Linked DNA regions of Homo sapiens: region 1 is linked to region 2. Evidence: fine-mapped expression QTL. A gene starts in region 2. The other region holds a variant in brackets. All regions are shown on one strand. Distances are between the middles of the regions.

Region 1 (4,382 bases), 36 kb after region 2:
GACTTGGGAATGCTTGCCAGGTCAGAGGCTGTTTTGCTTTTAGCTCACTTTGCAAGCACGTCTTCTCCCTGCAGACCTGGGGCTCAATGTCTGAGGTGTGGAGTTCCTGCCAGTAATGGAGGGGGACTCTCAACACACAGCCCCCACACTTAACTCAATGCCCAGGATAGGTGGGCCAGCCAGAGCAGTGCACATGTCTAGATTTTGAGAGACAAACAGCAGATGAAGCTAATTGAGTCGTATCTGCCTAGACTCCTTCTCCTAGCCACTATAAGGAGCTGCAGACTGACCTTCCTTCCTGGAGTCTGTCTGTCTTTTCTTTTTCTCTCTCCCCAGTCCATCATCCTTTGTCATAAGCATGATCCTTCTGCAGCATTTGGGCTAAAACTTACTTCCTAGAGGTAAGCACTGTATCCATAGTGCTTTTGCTAAATGAATTCATTTGCGAAATGAGTGAACCAAAAACAACTTAAGATCTTCAAGAGGCTGCCATTAGAATGCATCTTGACATCTCTCATTTCCCCATGCATTTGCCCAAGCTGTTTCCTAACCCAGTACCTACCTCTCTTCTTGATCAATACTTGGAATGAGTGAATATTAATGCACACCTCACACTGTGTTATGATTATTTGCTAATACCTCCCTTCCTACAGTCTGTCTGTCTTTTTCTCTGTTTCCCCAATCCATCATCCTTTATCACAAGCATGGTTCTTTTGCAACCTTTGGGTTAAATCTTACTTCTCAGACCTACTACATGGGATCTAAGCCAAGTTCACTTCTTCAGTCCCATCTTTCATAATGCACCCCATGCATCCAGTGTTCCAGGTGCACAGAACTATGTTCTTTAATATCAGCAAGGCTTTGCCCACACCATCACCCCTGCCTGGACCACCTCCCTTTCCCATCCCTGCCTTTTCTACTTGATGAAACCACACTCATCCTTCAAGGCTCAAATACCACATCCGCAGTGAGCCTCCTCTCCTTGACTGCAGAGTCAATTGTGGTTCCTCTGAGCTCTTCTAAGGCCCAGGTCTTCTCTCCCCTCTCTTAAAAGCGGGGCCGGCCAGGGGTGGTGGCTCATGCCTGTAATCCCAGCACTTTGGGAGGCTGAGGCGGGCGGATCATGAGGTCAGGAGTTCGAGATTACCCTGGCCAACATAGTGAAACCCCGTCTCTACTAAAAATACAAAAAATTAGCCGGCATGGTGGTGTACACCTGTAGTCCCAGCTACTTGGGAGGCTGAAGCAGGAGAATCGCTTGAACCTAGGAGGCAGAGCTTGTGAGGAGCTGAGATCGCACCACTGCACTCCAGCCTGGGCAACAGGGCGAGACTCCGTCTCAAAAAAAAAAAAAAAAAAAAAAAGCAGGGGCCACGTCTTAGTCACCTTTGCACTCCTGTTGCTGTCACAGGGTCTAGTATACACTAGGCGCTCAACTGGGTGAGTGAATACGTCACTGTGGACGCTGGAGAATGAGTTGACTTGGGAACAAATTCTCATGATTTCCCAGGGTTGGCTGCAAGCTAACAAATGCACTTCACTATGCTTGAAAGGGAAGCTGGACCAGGACCGGGCGAGAGAGCAAAGAGGATCCTGGAGAAATGAGACCCCTTCACTACCGCCCCTCTGCGAGCCTCGAACAGAGCTGGGAGCTGGGGCCTAGGCTACCTGTAAAGGAGAGTAAGTGTTGATAAGGACAGAGCTGTGAGGACCCACGTGGCAGTTCTGGGAGGAGGCAGGTGTGTGTGAGTCATGGCCACAGCGGCTGCTGGCCTTTGGACTGTCAGGCTAGCTATGCCTTCTTCATGAGGCTCTTGTGCCCCTTCTCTTTGAGCACATGGTGGCAAACCAATGCACTTGAGCACCTAGGTGCAAATCCCACTTCTGCCATTTAACAGCTGGGTGGCCTTGGACAACTTGCTTCACCTCAGTTTCCTAATCTGATAAATGAGGATATAATAATATCTACTGCACAGAGTTCGGTGCAGACTGACTGAGATGATGAGGTGCCTGCACAGTGCCTGGCCTATAATAAGTGCTTAGGCAGGAACAGAAAACCAACCACCACATGTGCTCACTATAAGTGGGAGTTGAACAATGAGAACACGTGGACACAGGGAGGGGAACATCACATACCGAGCCTGTCGGGGGGTGGGAGGCAAGAGGAGGGAGAGCATTAGGA[C/A]AAATACCTAATACATGTGGGGCTTAAAAAGATGACAGGTTGATAGGTGCAGCAAAGCACCATGGCACATGTATAGCTATGTAACAAACCTGCACACTCTGCACATGTATCTCAGAACCTAAAATAAAATAAAAAATAATAAAAAAAAGAAGTGCTTAGGGTCCTCTGCCTTGGAGAGGCTCCTTGTGTTCCCTGGGCTGGGGCAGAGGTTTCCTAAGAGAGAGGGGCAGCAGTCAGACCCGGAGGGTTGGCACAGCTTGGAGAAGAGGTGGGGACTGAGGCAGGGCAGAGCAGACCCCTGCCAATCATGCCTGCTTCATCTACATAGGACAAGGAGAGCTCCTGAGGCAGGCACGATGCCACATGAGGGCATGAGGGTGGGGGAGGAGAAGAAAGCAGGGCAAAGGGACCAGGTTCAGAGTGGGTTTTGACATCCATGCTGAGCAGGTCAAGGCAGGGGCAGCTCCAGTGTCTGAGCCCTGCAATCCTTCTGGAAAAGCCCTGCCTTGGAGGAGAGCCCAGATCCAGCCTGACCACTACATGGGGCTTGGACAATAACCCTTAGGACTAGGCCCTGGGGGCCCCAGCAGTGACCAGGTTTGAGGGAAAGAACATGGGCAGAGTCTCTGCTCCACACACTGACTAGTAAGTCACCCAACTTCTCTGAGCCTGAGTTTCTGCTTCTGTGAAATGGGGTAACAACACTCCCCTCCTAAACTTAGTAGGAGGCTTGATGAGATCATGTTGACAATGCACTTAGCAAAGGGCATGGCCCATAGGAGGTACCCAATAAATATTGGTTACTTTCTTCAGCTCACAGTGCACTGGGGACTCTTGTCTTCTTGCTGCAGGCATGCAGTTGGACAGCAGAAAAGGGCTCCTCCCTCCAAAGGCTGGAGAGGCAGTCGGAATAAGGCAATATGATCTCAAACCGAATACCTGGGCCTTCCCAGTCAGGCTATGTTGAAAAATCTCCCAAATAAAATGGCGAATGGAGGCAAAGACCCCTCTGCCCCCAAAGACATCACAGTCCCTGATGGGAGGTGATGGGAAACCCAAGGGGCTCATCTGCTAGCCCACGACCCCACTGAGGAGGGAAATTTGCCATCTTTTGGATACACCATTCAGGGACATCTTGGAAATGCAGGAAACGGGGGTGCATGTTGATATTCAGACATTGGGCCCAAAGTCTTTCTCCCTGCTCAGTTCTGTACTCATGCTTATGAAAAACCTGACACCTTCAATAATTTTCCCCTAGAAATGATTGGTAGGGAAAGCTTGCCCTTCTGCTGATTGGCTGCAACTTTTATTCCTAAATGAATACTCCAAAGCCCAGAGATCCCTTTTTCCCTTGGCTACCAGAGGGCACAGAGCCAGGTTTTATGTTGATGGCTGTAGTTGTCCTCTGCCCAGGTTGCTGAACATCTTTTTACCCTCTTCATTTCTCAGTTCCTATTTTCTTACCTTTTTAAAGGGTTTTATTTTACATGCATCTTTTTTTATTATACTTCAAGTTCTGGGATATACGTGCAGAACGTGCAGGTTTGTTACATAGGTATACACATGCCATGGTGGTTTGCTGCACCCATCAACCCTTCATCTACATTAAGTATTTCTCCTAATGCTATCCCTCCCCTTGCCCCCCACCCCCAGACAGGCCCCAGTGTGTGATGTTCCCCTCCCTGTGTCCATGTGTTCTCATTGTTCAACTCCCACTTATGAGTGAGAACATGTGGTATTTGCTTTTCTGTTCCTGTGTGAGTTTGCTGAGAATGATAGTTTCCAGCTTCATCCATGTCCCTGCAAAGGACACGAACTCAACCTTTTTTATGTCTGCATAGTATTCCATGGTGTATATGTGCCACATTTTCTTTATCCAGTCTATCATTGATGGGCATTTGGGTTGTTTCCAAGTCTTTGCTATTGTGAATAGTGCTGCAATAAACATACGTCTGCATGTGTCTTTATAGTAGAATGATTTATAATCCTTTGGGTATATACCCAGTAATGGAATTGCTGGGTCAAATGGTATTTCTGGTTCTAGATCCTTGAGGAATCACCGCACTGTCTTCCACAATGGTTGAACTAATTTACACTCCCACCAACAGTGTAAAAGCGTTCCTATTTCTCCACATCCTCTCCAGCATTTGTTGTTTCCTGACTTTTTAACGATCACCATTCTAACGGGTGTGAGATGGTA
Region 2 (4,310 bases):
GGCTGTCCCTGCCGGTGTAGGCTCCACAGCACCAACCCTCCAGCGGGAACACCCTCTCTCATCAACTGCCCTCCCTGCTGGCCAGGCCCAGCCCTTAGCCAGGTGCTTTTTCAGGGACCAAGTAGAGCTGGGGCCTGACCACAGGCACTTCTTGGAGCCACAGACGCAAAGCAGCAGCCCTCGGGGATTGTTCTTCCCCAGCCACCGGCCCAGAGTGTGGCTGGTCAATCGTGGGGACCCAGGACTGGCTGGACGCACAGCTCTAGGGCCCAGTACCTCCCACAGCCTCTGCAGCCTTGGGCGGGGGAGAGGGGTGAGCCAGTCCTGAATTGGGTTGGGAGGAGCAGGGACAAAAATAACCCAGTACAGGTTCCTGCTGAGGCCAGAAATAGCATAGTGACAAGTGCCTTGTAACACCCTGGATGAGCAGCAGGGGGAGGCTGAGCTGAGGCTGGCCCAGCCTCACACCAGGCCCTGGCCGGGCTACATACCACATGGTCCGTGTGTACACACGCGTGTGGGGGGCCCGAGAGACCATGGCTCAGGACAGGGAATCTGGAGAGATGCTGAACTTGGGCTTGGCCTTGGCCATGGGCACGCTGCGCTTGCGCAGGGGCCCGCGGGCTGAGGCGAGGGTCAGAGCTTCCAGTAGGCTGTGGTCCTCATCAAGCTGGCGGGCCGTGCAGAGTGGTGTGGGCACTTTGACGGTGTTGCCAAACTTGGAGTAGTCCACAGAGTAACGTCCGTCCTCCTCAGCTACAATGGGCACAAAGCGCTGGCCCCACAGGATCTCATCGGCCAGGTAGGAGGTGCGGGCCTGGGTGGTGATGCCCGTGGTTTCCACCACGCCTTCCAGGATGACGATGATCTCGAGGTCCTGGTGGTGGTGCAGGTCGCTGGGTGCCAGGTCGTAGAGTGGGCTGTTGGCATCAATGACATGGTAGATGATCAGCGGGGCCACCAGGAAGATGCTGTTGCCACCCACGCCGTTCTCCATGGGGATGTCCACCTGGTGGAGGGGCACCACCTCGCCCTCGGGGCTGGTGGTCTTGCGTACCACCTGCATGTGGATGGTGGCGCTGATGATCATGCTCTTGCGGAGGTCACCCACACGTAGCATGAAGCAGAGGCGGCCGTGGCGCAGGGCGATCACCGCATGCTTGCTGAAGATGAGGGTCTCAGCCCTGCGGTGGGCTTGGGCAGTCTTCATGAAGATGCAGCCAAGCATGATGGCGTTGATCATGAGCCCCACGATGTTCTGCACGATGAGGATCAGGATGGCCAGTGGGCACTCCTCAGTCACCATGCGCCCCCCAAAGCCAATAGTCACTTGGACCTCAATGGAGAAAAGGAAGGCAGACGAGAAGGAGTGGATGCTGGTGACACAGGGCTCAGCAGTGCCCTCGCTGGGGGCCAGGTCACCGTGGGCGAAGGCGATGAGCCACCAGGCCATGGCGAAGAGCAGCCAGCTGCACAGGAAGGACATGGTGAAGATGAGCAATGTGTGTGGCCACTTGAGGTCCACCAGCGTGGTGAACACGTCCTGCAGGAAGCGGCCCTGCTCCCGGATGTTCTTGTGGGCCACGTTGCAGTTGCCTTTCTTGGACACAAAGCGGGCCCTCCGCTGGCGGGCACGGTACCTGGGCTTGGCAGGGTCCTCTGCCAGGCGTGTCAGCACGTATTCCTCGGGGATGATGCCCTTGCGGGACAGCATGGCTCCGGTGACCCCCAGGGAGGGGCTTCCCCCATCGGAGGCACCCCTCGGACGTGGCCTAGGGCCTCACTGCAGAGTCCTCTCGGTGGGCACCTTCTCACCCTGGGGCTGCACTCAGCCTGTGCTGGCCTCACTTCTGAGATAACTCCCCACCAGACTCTTCCTTACCTCCACCTGGGTCCCACTTCACTTCTTAATACCAGCCTCAGGCCGGGCGCGGTGGCTCACGCCTGTAATCCCAGTACGTTGGGAGGCTGAGGAGGGCAGATCACTAGGTCAGGAGTTCGAGACCAGCCTGACCAACATGGTGAAACCCCATCTCTACTAAAAATACAAAAGTTAGCCGGGCATGGTGGTGCGCACCTGTAATCCCAGCTACTCAGGAAGCTGAGGCAGGAGAATCGCTTGAACCCGAGAGGCGGAGGTTGCAGTGAGCCAAGATCACGCCACTGCACTCCAGCCTGGGCGACAGAGCGAGACTCCGTCTCAAAAACAAAAAACAAAACAAAAAAAACAGCCTCACCCTTGAGCCCACCTGCCTGGCGCCTAGGGAGCCCCCAACCCTGCCGGCTCTCCACCTGGCCCTGCGTCCTCCCCCAGCTTCCCCCACCAGCTGACCACCCCTGGGCCTCCCGCTAAGAGCCCTTCTCCCCGCCCAGCCTGCCTTCCCAGCCCAGCTCAGAACTTAACACCTCCGGATCTCTCCCACTAACCGGACCTCACCCCCACCTCCGGGTCTCCCGCCTCACCTGTCTGGCCTTCGGGCTCCCAGGCTCCAGCTCAGGTCCTGGCCACCCCCGCCCCGTCTCTCCTCCAGGTGCGCCCCCTATGTCCTACTCCACCCCTCCCGGAGCGCCCCCGCCGCTTTCCGGATCCCCCTCCAGCTCTCGTCCTCTCTGTCTCCTTGGGATCCTGCGTTCTCTGGAGTCACCACCCCACCCGGCTCAACCGCGGCTCCCCGGACCTGCGCGCGACCCGGCGGGGCTGACTCCGAGTCGCGGCCTCCCGGTCCCTGCCGCCCGCCCGCGCCGCGGCTCCCGCTCCGCGCCGGGTCCCGGCCCCGCCCGCCGCCGCCGCTGCACCTGCTCCTGCTCCTCACGCCACGGCCGTCGCCTCCCCGCCCCCTCCCGCCGCCCGGGCGCTCGCGGCTGGCCGTCCTCCCGTCTGTCTGTCCGTCCGTGGGTCCGCGGAGACCGACCTGGGCTAGGCAGGGGTCTAGGACGGCGGGAGGGGGGCGCACGAGGAGAGGAACGGGGCCGGGGACCGCCAGGGGGAGCCCGACCTGCACCGGAGCGCAGGGGGCGGGGCCGGAGCAAGCCCCCGCCCCTCCCGCGCCCCTCCCCGCCCCCGCCCTCCACCTCCCCTCCCGGGACTCACAACCCGGCCTTTGGAGTTTTTCTGATCCGCGGAACCCAGAGGTTCCTCCTGCCCACGCTCTACGAAAGTGGGGGGCTGGGAGGGATCTGTGACCCGCCCTCCCAGTCTGGGGCCGCCGCCCTGTCGCCCTGGCTCCCCTCCCCCAATATCCCCATCCGTATTTGGGTCAGTAATCCGCCTCTCGGCCGCGCCAGGTTTGCAGGTTCCCCGGGAAAGGAGGCGCTGAGAGGCGGCGCCACCAATCCCAGGGCTGGCGGAAATTAGGCGGTCCGAGGACTTCTCAACCTGCAGCTGCTTCTCTTTGGGGGATGCTCTTAATCTTAGTCTTGAATCCTTTGACAATCTGATGGAAGCTCAGACTCCCTCTCATTAAAAAAAAAAAAAAAAAAAAAAAAAAAAAAGGCCTCGGCAGGAAAGGAGCACAGTTTAACACCTGCTACTGCTGTGGGGCAGCCTGGGCGGCTCCATCTTCTCAGCCATTCCGGCCCTACTTTAAAGAAGGTTTGAGCCGAGGCCACTTGCTTTACACTTTCTCACACCTGTCACCTGACTTCTTCCACGTTAGGTCATGGGTGGTATTTAGGCCTGAACAGTGTGTTAGGGCTGCCTCGGGCACTGGGGGACCCAGGCTCTTGGTCCCGGCATGGTGGTGTTTCTGTTCAGGCATCAGCCTGAGGCTGCCCTGTGGCATGGACCCGGGTTCTCAGCTGGGAGGGAAAGCCTGCTAGATCTCTGTTGTTGGAACAGTAACGGCTTTACCGCTGTCTGTGGCTCAGATCCTTATGGAAGAACCCCTGACCATCTGCGGCCATTTTGTTGGAGTGGGGGCTTGAGACAGGGTCTGGAAAAGGCAGTGTGGCTGTGGGCCACAGTGGGGGCAAGATATGCATTTTATATTGGATTTTCCTTTCTCTCCCTACCCACCTGCAGGCAGAGCGAACACCGCTACAAAGGATGGGTGTGATCATGGGCTATATTAACAAAGATGCAGTGTCTAGGAAGGGGAGGGTAAAATGAGATGAGCAGAGTGGGAAGCTCAAGGAGACAGGGTTACATGGGGAAATCTCTGAGGCAACTACAACTGTCCAGCCATCAGAAAAGGAAAGTCCCCCAGGGATTTGGGCACTATTGCAGAAACACCTGGCCTTGAAGGAGGATGAACTAGTAGTTTTTTGTGGCCCAAAGGGTAGAACCAGGACACTAAGTGGAACAGAGGCAG

Direction of the effects. Positions count from the first base shown, and alleles are read on the strand shown. Sizes are in standard deviations (SD) of each study's normalised expression.
As copies of C replace A in region 1, the expression in putamen of the gene that starts at base 2,282 in region 2 goes down (moderate effect, 0.50 SD a copy in GTEx).

The links.
Region 1: its variant is fine-mapped to the expression of KCNJ11 in putamen (GTEx, PIP above 0.99). The same link has a PIP of 0.9 or more in caudate and nucleus accumbens.

The regions. Positions count from the first base shown.
Region 1 is chr11:17,422,016-17,426,397 of GRCh38, forward strand. All of the region lies in intron 16 of ABCC8 (ATP binding cassette subfamily C member 8), which reads right to left. Among named protein-coding and RNA genes, the nearest start is that of KCNJ11, 36 kb to the left of the region's middle. The variant C/A (reference allele first, on the strand shown) is at 2,183.
Region 2 is chr11:17,386,378-17,390,687 of GRCh38, forward strand. It overlaps KCNJ11 (potassium inwardly rectifying channel subfamily J member 11), which reads right to left and starts at 2,282. Exons shown (of 1, transcript NM_000525.4): 1 at 1-2,282. The coding sequence starts at 1,714. The coding sequence ends at 542. RefSeq lists enhancers at 157-810, 811-1,464 and silencers at 2,673-3,182, 3,263-3,362.